Homo sapiens: one gene and its partners. The gene in region 1 interacts genetically with each later gene. Each region holds a gene or a part of one and is shown in the gene's direction. Other genes may lie near its edges.

The links. A genetic interaction does not mean that the proteins touch.
Region 2: changes in SDHC (region 1) and CARS2 together harm fitness less than expected from each alone (positive genetic interaction), as found in Homo sapiens cells (one large-scale study listed by BioGRID).
Region 3: changes in SDHC (region 1) and PGD together harm fitness more than expected from each alone (negative genetic interaction), as found in Homo sapiens cells (one large-scale study listed by BioGRID).

What each region holds. Positions count from the first base shown.
Region 1 is NC_000001.11:161,355,179-161,360,172, forward strand, and holds part of SDHC (succinate dehydrogenase cytochrome b560 subunit, mitochondrial isoform 1 precursor), read left to right. Parts: intron 1-1,498; coding exon 1,499-1,662; intron 1,663-4,994. UniProt on the Homo sapiens protein: Membrane-anchoring subunit of succinate dehydrogenase (SDH) that is involved in complex II of the mitochondrial electron transport chain and is responsible for transferring electrons from succinate to ubiquinone (coenzyme Q).
Region 2 is NC_000013.11:110,644,017-110,647,863, reverse strand, and holds part of CARS2 (probable cysteine--tRNA ligase, mitochondrial), read left to right. Parts: intron 1-624; coding exon 625-763; intron 764-1,232; coding exon of another isoform or gene 1,233-1,503; exon of another isoform or gene 1,504-1,767; intron 1,768-1,773; coding exon 1,774-1,897; intron 1,898-3,257; coding exon of another isoform or gene 3,258-3,281; exon of another isoform or gene 3,282-3,380; coding exon 3,381-3,479; intron 3,480-3,681; exon of another isoform or gene 3,682-3,799; intron 3,800-3,847. UniProt on the Homo sapiens protein: Mitochondrial cysteine-specific aminoacyl-tRNA synthetase that catalyzes the ATP-dependent ligation of cysteine to tRNA(Cys). In addition to its role as an aminoacyl-tRNA synthetase, has also cysteine persulfide synthase activity.
Region 3 is NC_000001.11:10,404,817-10,409,063, forward strand, and holds part of PGD (6-phosphogluconate dehydrogenase, decarboxylating), read left to right. Parts: intron 1-3,254; coding exon 3,255-3,324; intron 3,325-4,247. UniProt on the Homo sapiens protein: Catalyzes the oxidative decarboxylation of 6-phosphogluconate to ribulose 5-phosphate and CO(2), with concomitant reduction of NADP to NADPH.

The sequences.
Region 1 (4,994 bases):
AGCAGTTACATTATATCATTATGGTTTTGATTTGCATTTGTCTAATGGCTAATGATGTTAAGCACCTGTTCATGCACTGATTGGCCATTTATTTATCGTCCTTGGAAAGATGTCTATTCAGATCCATTTGTCATTTTATTGATTGAGTTGTAAGAGTTTTTTATGTATTCTGGATAAAAGTCCTCCATGATTTGCAAATATTTTCTCCCATTCCTTTGAGTTGTCTTTTCACTTTCTTGATGGTATTATTTGCAGCACAAAAGTTAGTAATTTTGATGAAATCCAATTCATCTGTTTTTTCTTTTGTCATTTATGATTTTGGTGTCATCTGTGAAACCACTGCCTAATCCAAGATCATGAAGATTTATTTCTATGCTTTCTACTAAGAGTTTTATAGTTTTAGTTCTAGCATTTAGGTCTCTAATTCATTTTAATTTAAATTTTTGTGTAATAGAGATTTGAATGATTTAAAATTTTTCCTCTCTTCAGAGGTAGCAACACTAGAAGATAAAGATAAAAAAAGGGCCAGGCGCAGTGGCTCATGCTGGTAATCCCAGCGCTTTGGGAGGCTGAGGTGGGCGAATCACTTGAGGCCAGGAGTTTGAGACCAGCCTGGCCAACATGGCAAAACCCTGTCTCTACTAAAAATGCAAAAATTAGCGAGGCATGGTGGCATGCATCTATAAGGCCAGCTACCTGGGAGGCTGAGGCACAAGAATGGCTTGAACCCAGGAGGCGGAGGTTGCAGTGAGCTGAGATCACGCTTACTGCACTCTAGCCTGGGCAACAGAGCGAGACTCTGTCTCAAAAAAAAAAAAAAAAAAAAGAGAACCTAATTTTTTTTCTGACTCTTCTCTGGACTGAGTACACTGTTTTTACCTTTTCTTAGTTAGATGATGAACTAGATGATATAGCAAGGCTTGATGTCTAAACTGGCAAGTGAAGTTTTTATAGAGACGGATGTTGAAAGGAGGAATAACATACTAAAACATATGGCACATTTAGTTTATGATGAGATCCCAAGTAGTCTGTCTCCCATCATAAACTTGAACATGAGTTTAAATCTTCTCCTTTTCAAGGCCGGGTGCAGTGGCTCACACCTGTAATCTCAGCACTTTGGGAGGCAAAGGTGGGCAGATCACTTGAGGTCAGGAGTTCGAGACCAGCCTGGCCAACTTGGTGAAACCCTGTCTCTACTAAAAATACAAAAATTAGCTGGGCGTTGTGGTGGGCACCTGTCATCCCCACTACTCAGGAGGCTGAAGCAGGAGACTCGCTTGAACTTGGGAGGTGGAGGTTGCAGTGAGCCAAGATTGCACCACTATACTCCAGCCTGGGTGACAGAATGAGACTCTGTCTCAAGAAAAAAAGAAAACAAAAATCTTCTCCATTTCAAAATGGTTTAGAATTGTATGAGGTGCCAGGGGTCCCAGTTTTATGTATCATATTAGTTGTAACTTATGAGCAGCTGTGACAAGCTACTTGGTTTTCTCCTCAGGGGTCTCTCTTTTTGGCATGTCGGCCCTGTTACTCCCTGGGAACTTTGAGTCTTATTTGGAACTTGTGAAGTCCCTGTGTCTGGGGCCAGCACTGATCCACACAGCTAAGTTTGCACTTGTCTTCCCTCTCATGTATCATACCTGGAATGGGATCCGACACTTGGTAAGTTAATTCGGGATTTGCACATTTTCTCTGTGAAGGGAGTGGGGAGACTGGGAGGATTCTTTCCTTCATTACTGGGTTTAGTGCTGTTCTTTTTTTTTTTTCCCAAGAGTGGAGTCTCGCTCTATTGCCCAGGCTGGAGTGCAGTGGTGCGATCTCAGCTCACTGCAACTTCTGCCTCCTGGGTTCAAGAGATTCCTGTGCCTCAGCCTCTTAAGTAGTTGGCGTTATAGACGCATGCCACCACTCCTGGTTTTTGTATTTTTAGTAGAGATGGGGTTTCACCATGTTGGCCAGGCTGGTCTCAAACTCCTGGCCTTAAGTGATCCGCCTGCCTAAGCTTCCCAAAGTGCTAGGATTATAGGCGTGAGCCACCGCGCCCAGCTAGTGCTGTTCTTAAGGTTAGTTGTGACTCAGAGTCCTCTTGGGGAAAGCCAGACAAGTTCACAAGTTCCCCTGTGTGTTACCTGGCAGTCCTGCTGGTGGTGTAGCTGAGCAATGGTATAGGCCTCACAGATACTTGCAGGGTCTCATTGGGAACTCTTCCTTTTTTAATTTAATTTAATTTTATTTTTTGAGACAAAGTCTCGCTCTGTCTCCCAGGCTGGGGTGCAGTTGGCGCGATCTTGGGTCACTGCAAACTCCACCTCTTGGGTTCAAGAGATTCTCCTGCCCCAACCTCCCGAGCAGCTGGGACTACAGGCGCCTCCCACCACGCCCGGCTAATTTTTTGTATTTTTAGTAGAGATGGGGTTTCCCCATGTTAGCCAGGCTGGTCTCAAACTCCTGACCTTGTGATCCACCCCTCTCAGCTTCCCAAAGTGCTAGGATTACAGACGTGAGCCACTGTGCCCTGCTGAACTCTTCATTTTTAAGAGGGATATTTAAAAGAGATCCCTGAAGGCATAGAATGCATGTTTATGACATAAATATTAATTGGTACCTATTTATGTGTCAGGTACTGTTGTAGACACTGGGGATTCAGTTATGAGCTAGATAACCATTGTTGCTGCTTTCATTCTTCCGTTCCTGTTGACCCAGAGTAGTGCTTCTGACAGGACTCAAATAGATTACCTTTTCTTATCTACACATTATATTGCATTTCTGTTTTGAGATGTTGGACAGAATTGGGCCAACTTTAATAGAAACTGGGTGCCAAGAATTCCAGGTTTCAATATTGAGGTTAGGAATCTTTTTTTTTTTTTTTTTTTTTTGAGACAGAGTCTTGCTCCATTGCCCAGGCTGGAGTGCAATGGTGCAATCTCAGCTCACTGCAACCTCCACCTCCCAGGTTCAAGTGATTCTCCTGCCTTAGCCTCCCAAGTAGCTGAGATTACAGGTGCCCACAACCACGGCCAGCTAATTTTTTTTTTTTTTTGGTATTTTTAGTAGAGACGGGATTTTGCCATGTTGGCCAGCCTTACAGGTGCCTGCCACCACACCCAGCAAATTTTTTTTTTTTTGTATTTTTTAGTAGAGATGGGGTTTCACCATGTTGGCCAGCCTGGTCTTGAACTCTTGGCTTCCCAAAGTGCTGGGATTACAGGCGCGAGCCACTGCACATGGCAGGAATCATTTAATAGATTGGAAACTGTCCATGTTGCCTCCTATGTGACCTCATCGTCTGCTCAAAACTGGTTTCTAAAATTAGCCAGGTATGGTGGTGTGCGCCTGTGGTCCCAGCTACCCGTAAGGCTGAGGTGGGAGGATCGAATGAGCCTGGGAGGCGGAGGTTGCACTGAGCCGAGATTGTGCCACTGCACTTCAGCCTGGGTGACAGAGTGACCCCATCTAAAAAAAAAATAGGCGGGCACAGTGGTTCACGCCTGTAATCTCAGCATTTTGGGAGGCCGAGGCGGGCGGATAATCTGAGGCCGGGAGTTCGAGACCAGCCTTACCAACATGGAGAAACGCTGTCTCTACTAAAAATACAAAATTAGCCGGGCATGGTGGCACATGCCTGTAATCCCAGCTACTCGGGAGGCTGAGGCAGGAGACTTGCTTGAACCCGGGAGGCAGAGGTTTCAGTGAGCTGAGATCATGCCATTGTACTCCATCCAGCCTGGGCAACAAGAGCGAAATTCCGTCTCAAAAAAAAAAAAAAAAATACAAAAATTAGCTGGGGGTGGTGGCATGTGCCTGTAATCCCAGCTACTTGGGAGGCTGAGGCAGGAGAATCCAGGAGGCAGAGGTTGCAGTGAGCCAAGATCATGCCACTGCACTCTAGCCTGGGTGACAAAAGTGAAACTCAGTCTCAAAAAAAAAAAAAAGAAAAGATTTTATATTTTGTAGTCTCCCTAGTTTTGCTTCCAAGAAGGCAATTAAAATTCAGTTCTTTCTGTATTTTCATTACTTCTGAATCTGAGTCAACTGTCAGATGGATGCTTTTGCCTTAATTTGACTTTTTATTACTTCCAAATCATAGCCTTAGAGACAAGCACTTTCTGGATTTCAGTCTGGTCCAATAGACAGTTTAATGGAATAAAAAAAATGAGAGACTAAATTACTTATTAAATTAAGTGTCTGTATCAACTGTTCCCTGGGGCAGTGTTCAGTTTGATTTAAAATGACTTTTTACTTCCCTGAGGGGGAGGCAGTAGAGAGGGAGGACATTTCCATTAATGACTTCCTATTCCACAGAACAAAGCTCTGTAAAGAAAATCAGCTGATCAGCTTCCTCTGTTCATATTTTGGCTCAGACAGAGACTTGCCCTATATTTGTCTTTGTCTCAATATGGGGGTAAGAGAGGGGAGGTTTTATAAAATTGCAGAACTTAGAGCTTTTCTGCCCTGGTTCTTGCCTGTGATGGTAATCTTTTTGTTGAGGGAAGTGAAGAACCTAAGGGTCCTTAAGTCTGCTTTTATTTTTTCTTCTAGCAAGTACTGGCTGTGAGTGTGGGACAGGATTTTGTGTTTTCTGTGACAGTCTGCAGTTTTTGGCCTCTGAACTTGATAGTTGACTTGCCAGAAGATCTAATGGGGGAGTGAGGAGTGAAAGAGTAGGATGTTATAGGGTCTGTGGCATTCTAGGGAATATCCCTGCCTACTACTGCTACCCAGTAGGACTCACTCTCTATAAAACATTGTCCTTATTTAAGCAAAACAACTCTTTGTGGAATCTGCTTGACTCCTAATCTCCTAGTTAGAAGCAATTTGAGGGTTGAGGTGGAGGCATCTTCTCATCTTGATTTTTTTTTTTTTTTCTGGGCTTCCATCTTTTCTCTGAACTGACTCCTAATTTAGGCAGTTTTACATTCAGACTGTGGGTGTATGTGTGTATGTGTGTGTTAAGGCGCCATGTATGTGGGAAGTGTGGAAAATGAAGACTGCTT
Region 2 (3,847 bases), on another chromosome or scaffold:
GTGATCATTGCAAAGCGATTCACTCCTGTTGTCTTACCCATCAGAATGCAGTAGACTAGAAACCACAAGAAATGAACAGATGTAAACAGAAACACTGGCCCCTCATCCAGGTGGCCTAAGAAACACCCACAGACTCTAAAGCCAGGTCTGGGGACTGCTCCTCCCTCCCTCTTTGGGCTGTCCCATCACACACAGGCACTTTCCCTCGGGAGGGCCTTCCCTAGAGGTGCCTCTGACCCCAGGGCGGGGCTCCCTCTTTCCAGAGCTAGCCATTCATCCGCACCTCCATCCATCCAGGGCGGGGCTCCTTCTTTCCAGAGCCAGCCATTCATCCGCACCTCCATCCAGTCAGTGGAAATGCACCTCTTGGCTGGAAGCACTGGGAGCATGTCTCCACCGCCACCTTGTTCTCCCACGGCAGGTGCCACTGAGCTGGGACAGACCCTGTGGTCTGTGTCCAGTGGGCCTAGGGACTCGCGGTCACTGGAGGGCGTGAGAGCCACATGTCCCGCTCTCCGTGTGGTCCCTGGGTGGCAGTGCCCTCAGAAAACACTGATTCTGCTGGACCAGGGCAGGGGCACAGCATGGTGGGCACCGCCTCAGTGACCATCTCTTCCTCCTCAGCCATCGACTACAGTGACAGCGCCATGCTCCAAGCTCAGCAGCTGCTCCTGGGGCTGGGCTCTTTCCTGGAGGACGCACGTGCCTACATGAAGGGGCAGCTGGCCTGCGGCTCCGTCAGGGAAGCGATGCTGTGGGAGAGGTAAGAGGCCCGCCTAGCACCCGGCGTGGCACCCCTCCTGTGGCCTGCTGGGTGCTGCTGGTGGGCTCTTGAAGGGGAAGAGGGGCCCCCAGGAGACAGGGCGCTGGACAGGAGGTTTGGGGTCAGGGACTGCCCAGAGAGGCCCCAGGAGACAGGGTGCTGGGCAGGAGGTGCAGGTGTGGGGTCAGGGGCTCCCCAGAGGCCACAGGGGACTGGGAGCTGGACAGGAGGTGTGGGGTCAGGGGCTCCCCAGAGGCCACAGGACACTGGGTGCTGGACAGGAGGTGTGGGGTCAGGGGCTCCCGAGACATCCCAGGGAGACGGCGCTGGCAGGAAGTGTGCCTGGGGCCCTCGGGCTCTGAGCCCCCTGCTCAGAGTGGCTTTGGGCTCGGGTTCCCTGTGCGAGGAGCGGAGCTGCTCATCCCTCCCAGTCCTGACTGTGAGGAGCCAAAATCTATAAAACACACAGGCCTGGGCCCACAGCATCGCCTCCACTCCCCACCCACGGGTGTCCTGGGCAGCGCTGCACATTCATCCCGGCATGCAGAGTCTTCCGGATGGTCTTGGTGATAACCCACCCCTGCCACTTCAGCAGGGTAGGCAGCCAGTGGCCACGGGAGGCTGAGATCCGGGAGCCCCGGGCTGGGCCTCCCCAGCCTCTCTTTGTGAGTGGTCAGCCGTGCCGTCTCTCCCCCACCGAGTCTTCCTTGCCACTCCCCTCAATATCTATTGATTTTTAAAACCATCATGAAAATGCCCACGTGTGTCTTGTATTTTAAGTGTCACAGGTGACCTCTGCTCTGGGACTTTTTCTTGGGGTAACATGACAGTTTGCAGTTGATGTTACATAATTTTCTGCTACTCAGGAACTCAAGTCTTTGGGAATATGACCTAGAGAAAGTCCCCAGATTAGAGCCCCCAGCGTCTCTCCCTGGGGAAGGACTGGTGTGGGGGCCGCCTGGGGAGAGTGGAGCTCCCTCTGCTGTGACTGTTCTCTCCTCTTCCCTCAGGCTCTCCAGCACCAAGAGGGCCGTGAAGGCGGCCTTGGCAGATGATTTTGACACACCCAGGGTGGTTGATGCCATCCTGGGCCTTGCACACCACGGGAATGGACAGCTCAGGGCGTCCCTGAAGGTAGCTCAACGAACAGGTGGCCTTGCGGTCCTGCTGCCAGGGGCATGGGTCGGGTCCTCTGGTGGGTTTTTCTCATGTCGGCTGGGTGGCATCTCTGCTGATTTCGCCTCCCGCAGCTTCTGTGGAGGAACTCATGGAGCCCGAGTCTGCCGCTGACACACGGGATGGCACCCAGCCTGGGGCTTGACCCTCCCGGGCCTCAGGGCCACCTGGGGAACAAGCTCTCAGGAGCCCCTGAGGCTGAGAAATTCTGTGTGCTTGATCCTCAGGGGACACATCTCATGTCCCCACTGCATTCATGGCCCTTTCACAGAGAGAGCTTTTGTGGGGAACTTTTTAAGGAAAGACCCATTTACCCCAAGGCACTGTTATGCAATCTGCACCCCAGTGTGATGACCACACCAAGCACCCAGGGGTCTGAGCCTGGACTCGTGGGTCACTGCAAGTGTTTGGCAGGTGGGACAAAGACCGTGAAGGCGGCGGCAGGCTTTGGTTCCTGCACGTCTGAGGGTCCCCTGCCAGGCCCTGGGAGGCGCTGCGTCAGGAGCCCCGTGACCTTTGATGACCCGGGAAGCCGAGGCTGTTTGTGCCTCTCCCACCTCTGGAAACACCTGGGGGTTCTGGCCACATGCTCTGTTAGTTGAGCATCTCTGTGGAGGTCTCCATCCCTGGCTGCGTGCAGTGTTGGGTTTCAGAGCACCAGCAGGTGGGGCAGGGTGCCATGTGCCCTTGCCGGGTGCCTTCGGTCCAAATACTGCAGACGCGCAGGGCTCGCCTCTGAGGGGGGCGGGCATTTGAGTCACAGCCGGCTGCAGGAACAGGCTGCCCCGCACTGAAGGCAGCCAGGCCGGGCTGGGGCAGGTCCCGCAGCCAGGCTGCTCCTGCACGGGAGCTCCTCCTCCTCAGCCCGTCCGCGGCCTCCTGCCTTCACCGCAGCTGCTGCCGGCACTACCAGGCTGGCCCAGCTCTAGGGCAACAGGGGCCTCTTGTGGCAAGGGGCGGGACAAGTAAAGAGGCTGGCTTTTGTCCTGCGCTTTTCCTTCCCAAGCTTTGCAATTCTGGGGCACCTGCAAACTAAGGCTAGTGTCACCCAAGGGTCTCTGTGCTTGGTAACTGATGTGAGCCACGTACCAGGATTTCCCCGTTTTCTGAGAAACCCAGCCCAGTGCCCACTCAGCCTCCACCTACCATGCGCCACCTGCCATACTCCACGGTCATGCTTCACCCGCGAAGCCTGATGAGCTAGTCACCACCCACATGACTGATGGGTAAACTGAGGCACAAGAGATTCCTCATGCACCTATAGTTGTATGGTCTGCAGTGAGGTAGCCGATGCCAGAGCTGTGTCCTCCCTCCATAGAAGCCAGGAGAAAGGCCAGACTGAAGTGACCTGCTGAAGCCTTTGTCTTTTGACATTGAATTCCGTTTGCCCACTGCCATCAAGACTGCTTTTAAGGAGCTTCTGCGACATGATCTCTTACAGGAACCTGAAGGGCCGAGAAGTCCTGCTGTGTTTGGTGCCATCATCTCTTACTTTGAACAGTTTTTTGAAACTGTTGGAATTTCTCTGGCAAATCAACAGGTAGGTCCTATTATTTTAAATGCTTAATTCTGGAATTTTCTCCATGTTGGGACAATAACCTTTACCCTTTTAACTTGGAATAGAGCATTATGATGCCACACTAATGTATTTACCTGTTTAAAAACATGTTACTTTCCTGGAAAAATAAACACACTCAGAGCCAATACTTATTAATTGGAATTGCACAATTCTACTTCTGCAGTTGGCAAACTCTCGTGCGCAGAACCAGAGATGAGTCCATCTCAGCAACAGAATGTCGCCAGCTCTGCACACACGTTTATGTTCAAAGACTCTCAGAATGTGCAGAAGTCACAGGCACAGTAAGAGAACATTTTTTCCTGACCCATTTGAGGGCAAGTTGGCGACCT
Region 3 (4,247 bases), about 150 Mb from region 1:
GAAGCAGTTTAGGTAATGTTCTGTGCAATGTCTGGATGTAGGAATAAGGTCTGCCTCTTTTAGCTGATATATAACCCAAAAGTAACTTAATGTGATAATCGTGGGTAACAGGCTGGGCATAGTGGCCCATGCCTGTAATCACTGCCCAGCACTTTGGGAAGCTGCGGTGAATGATCATTTGAGCCCAGGAGTTGAAGACTAGCCTGGACAACATAGCGAGATCCTGTTTCTACAAAAAAGTAAAACAAACATTTTTTTAATTAAAAAATATAAATTGGCCGGGCGTGGTGGCTCACGCCTGTAATCCCAGCACTTCGGGAGGCTGAGGCAGGCAGATCACCAGGTCAGGAGATCTAGACGATCCTGGCCAACATGGTAAATTCCTGTCTCTACTAAAAATACAAAAATTAGCCGGGCATGGTGGCGTGCGCCTGTAGTCCCAGCTACTTGGGAGGCTGAGACAGGAGAATTGCTTGAACCTAGGAGGCAGAGGTTAGTGAGCCGAGATCGCGCCACTGCACTTCACCCTGGCGACAGAGTGAGAGTTTGTTTCAAAAACAAAACAAAACAAAACAAACAAAAAATACACACACACACACACACACACACATATATATAAATAATTGTGGGCAATCCGATATATATATAAATAATTGTGGGCAATCCGCTTGCCCTGGCCTCCCAAAGTACTGGGATTACAGGCGTGAGCCACCGTGCCTGGTCTGAAATATGATTCTTTAAGGCTGGGCATGGTGGCTCACGCCTGTAATCCCAGCACTTTGGGAGACTGAGATGGGAGGATCACTTGAGGTCAGGAGTTCAAGACCAGCCTGGCCAACATGGTGAAACTCTCTACTAATAATACAAAAATTAGCCGGGCATGGTGGAGGGCACCTCTAATCCCAGCTACATGGGAGGCTGAGGCACAAGAATCACTTGAACCTGGGAGGCAGAGGTTGCAATGAGCCGAGATCTCACCACTGCACTCCATCATGGGTGACAGAGCGAGACTCGGTCTCAGTAAAAAAGAAAAAATGATTCTTTTTTTGAGACGGAGTCTTGCTCTGTTGCCCAGGTTGGAGTGCAGAGTGCAGTGGCGCGATCTCTGCTCACTGCAAGCCCCACCTGCCAGGTTCACGCCATTCTCTCGCCTCAGCCTCCCAAGTGGCTGGAACTACAGGCACCCACGACCACGCCCAGCTAATTTTTTGTATTTTTAGTAGAGACGGGGTTTCACCGTGTTAGCCAGGATGGTCTTGATCCCCTGATCTCGTGATCTGCCTGCCTCAGCCTCCCAAAGTGCTGGGATTACAGGTGTGAGCCACTGCGCCCAGCCAAAAATAATTTTTTTAATTACCTTTCTGGTGAATGAGTCTGGGGATTCTCTTCAGTGTGTTATTAATAAAACACAGAAGTAGAGAGGCCTTTCTGCTTCTCAGAAGTTTAAACAGCTGTGTGTGCAGTGGCTTGCACCTGTAGTGCCAGCTATTCAGGAGACTGAGGTGAGAGAACTGCTTGAGCCCAGGTGTTCAAGGCCAGCCTGGACAACATAGCAAGACCCTGTTTCTTAAGAAAAAAAAAAAAGGTTTGAAAATACTTATCTCGAAGCACCTGCACAGTGAGCAGTTAGAAAGGCAACCAGCAGACAATGCACGTAAAAGTATTTGACATATGGAGTGCTCCAGTTGTTTCCATCAGTTCTCTTTCCTCATACTGTGGTGGCAGAAGTACAAATGGCACCTTTACCAGAAGGACACTGTAAAAGTTCAGTGAAGCTCTGCGGTTTCCGGTGTGGCTGTCTTCATCCCTAATCCTAAATGTTAACTTTGCAACCCTGTAAGATTTCATGTCTGTACCAGAAACTTTTTGTGAGGAAGCCTTGACTGGCCATTAGGGAGCAGAACAGTGAGGGAAAGTCTCAAGAGTAATATATCCGCGTGCTGAGCTGTGGAAGGAATGAACAGCGGCCTTTCTCTGAATGGTAATGTAGCTCTCAAAAACGCTGCCTGGTTCTTAATCCAAATGTCCAGAACCATTCTGTGCCTGGCAGCACACATCCAGACAAATGAAAGAGGGTCTCTTCACTTGCTAAAAGCCATTATAAGGAGAAATAAAGAAAAGGGAAAAAATTAAAAGAGGATCTCTAAAGGAACTTTCGTATTGCCTGCTGTTTGCAATCATACTGTCTGCTGCTGCTGCAGTAGAAATTTCTGAGCCGGGTGCGATGGCTTATGCCTGTAATTTCAGTGACTCAAGAGGCTGAGGTGGGAGGAGTGCTTGATCCGAGGAGTTCAAGACCAGCCACATCAACATAGGGAGACCCCATCTCTGCACCACCAACAAAAAATTAGCCAGGCATGGTGGCTCACGCCTATGGTCCCAGCACTTTGGGAAGCTGAGGTGTGAGGATTGCTTGAGGCCAGGAGCTCAACACCAGCCTGGGCAACATAGCAAGATCCTGTCCCTACAAAAAAAAGTTTTTAATTAGCTGGGTGTGATGGCACACACCTGTAGCCCCACCTACTTGGGAGGCTGAGGCAGGAGGATCACCTAAGTCCAGGAGTTTGAGGCTGCAGGGAGCCGTGATTGTGCCACTGCACTCCAGCCTGGGCAACAGAGTGAGACCCTGTCTCTAAGAAGACATTTCTTCTGGTGCTTTGGTGATGCTTCTGCTCAGCCTTTCTGTCTGTAGTCTCAGTCCGATAGTCCAGTCTGCTTTGAGGGCCCACCAGGACCTGGAGGAGGGGCCAGTTTCAGTCAAGGGTCTGCAGTTGACCTTGAGAACTTAGCACATTCATTATCTTTTTGTGGGCACTTCCACCTCCCATTAGAAAGAAAAAGATGGGCCCAGTGCGGTGGTGGCTTATGCCTGTAATCCCAGCACATTGGGTATCCACGGTGGGTGGATCACTTGAGCTCAGGAGTTCGAGACCAATCTGGGCAACATGGCAAAACCCCATCTCTACAAAATCCAAAAAAATGAGCTGGGTGTGGTGTCACATACCTGTAGTCTTAGCCACTTAGGGGGCCGAGGCAGGAAGATTACTTGAACCTGGGAGGTTGAGGAGGCTGCAGTGAGCTGAGATCACACCACTGCATTCCAGCCTGGGTGACAACGTGAGACCCTGTCTCAAAAAAAAAAAAAAAGAAAGGAAAAGATAGGGGTTGGTGTCTATGGGTATGTTGGTGTCTATGGGTATGGGCTCTCAGCCCGTCTCTTCTCATTAACTGAACCACACTGTTTCTTTACACAGGCCCCACATCAAGACCATCTTCCAAGGCATTGCTGCAAAAGTGGGAACTGGAGAACCCTGCTGTGACTGGGCAAGTTCTGGGCTACTCTTTAAAGCCAATTGGCAACATGGGCGTGTCTAAGTGATGAAGTGCGTGGAGAAAGGCCACCGTGGTCTCCCAGGGGTTAGCTTGGTGACATAAACGTCTCGATCTTTGATTGCTAGAATAGCCAACGCCTAGAATGCATGCCTGCTGTTCACATCTTTGTATCTTAGCTGACTGTTCATAGCCTTGAGGTTGATATTAAAAGCAGCCTTCTATAATTCATCTAAAAGATGAATTCTTTAAAAAGGAATAGGATGAAGTGAAATAAGATTTTTTCGAGCCATATTATTTCATGGCCAAAGGAAAGAATGTCAGAATCAAAAGTGGCGTTTGCTTGCATGGGTGAAAGGTGGAAGATTGAAGGTACTGTTGCTGTGTCAACATTCCATGAACGTGGAAAATTCCCCATCCTGTAGTGTGGGATTCAGGCATTCTGTGCTTGAACAAAGTAACCTGTGGACTTGCACCCTCACTGAATATGAAGGAGGCCTAACCTAGTTCATAGTACAGTGGTGCGATCTTGGCTCACCGCAACCTCCACCTCCCAGGCTCAAGCAATCCTCCTGCCTCAGCCTCCTGAGTAGCTGGGACTGCAGGTGCATGCCACCACGCCTAGCTAATATTTGTATTTTTTGTAGAGACGGGGTTTCACCATGTCACCCAGGCTGGTCTCAAACTCCTGGACTCTCAAGTCATCTGCCTGCCTTGGCCTCACAAAGTGCTGAGGTTACAGGCATGCGCCACCATGCCCGGCCTCGTGTTGCTGTTAAAGTAAACTTTATCTCATATTGTAGTTCAGCCATGCTGTGGATGGAAAAAAGCATTAGGCTCAGGAGACCTGAGTGGCAGTTCTGGCTTTCCATAAACTTAACTGTGACATCAGGCAAGCCACGTCCCTTCATGGACTT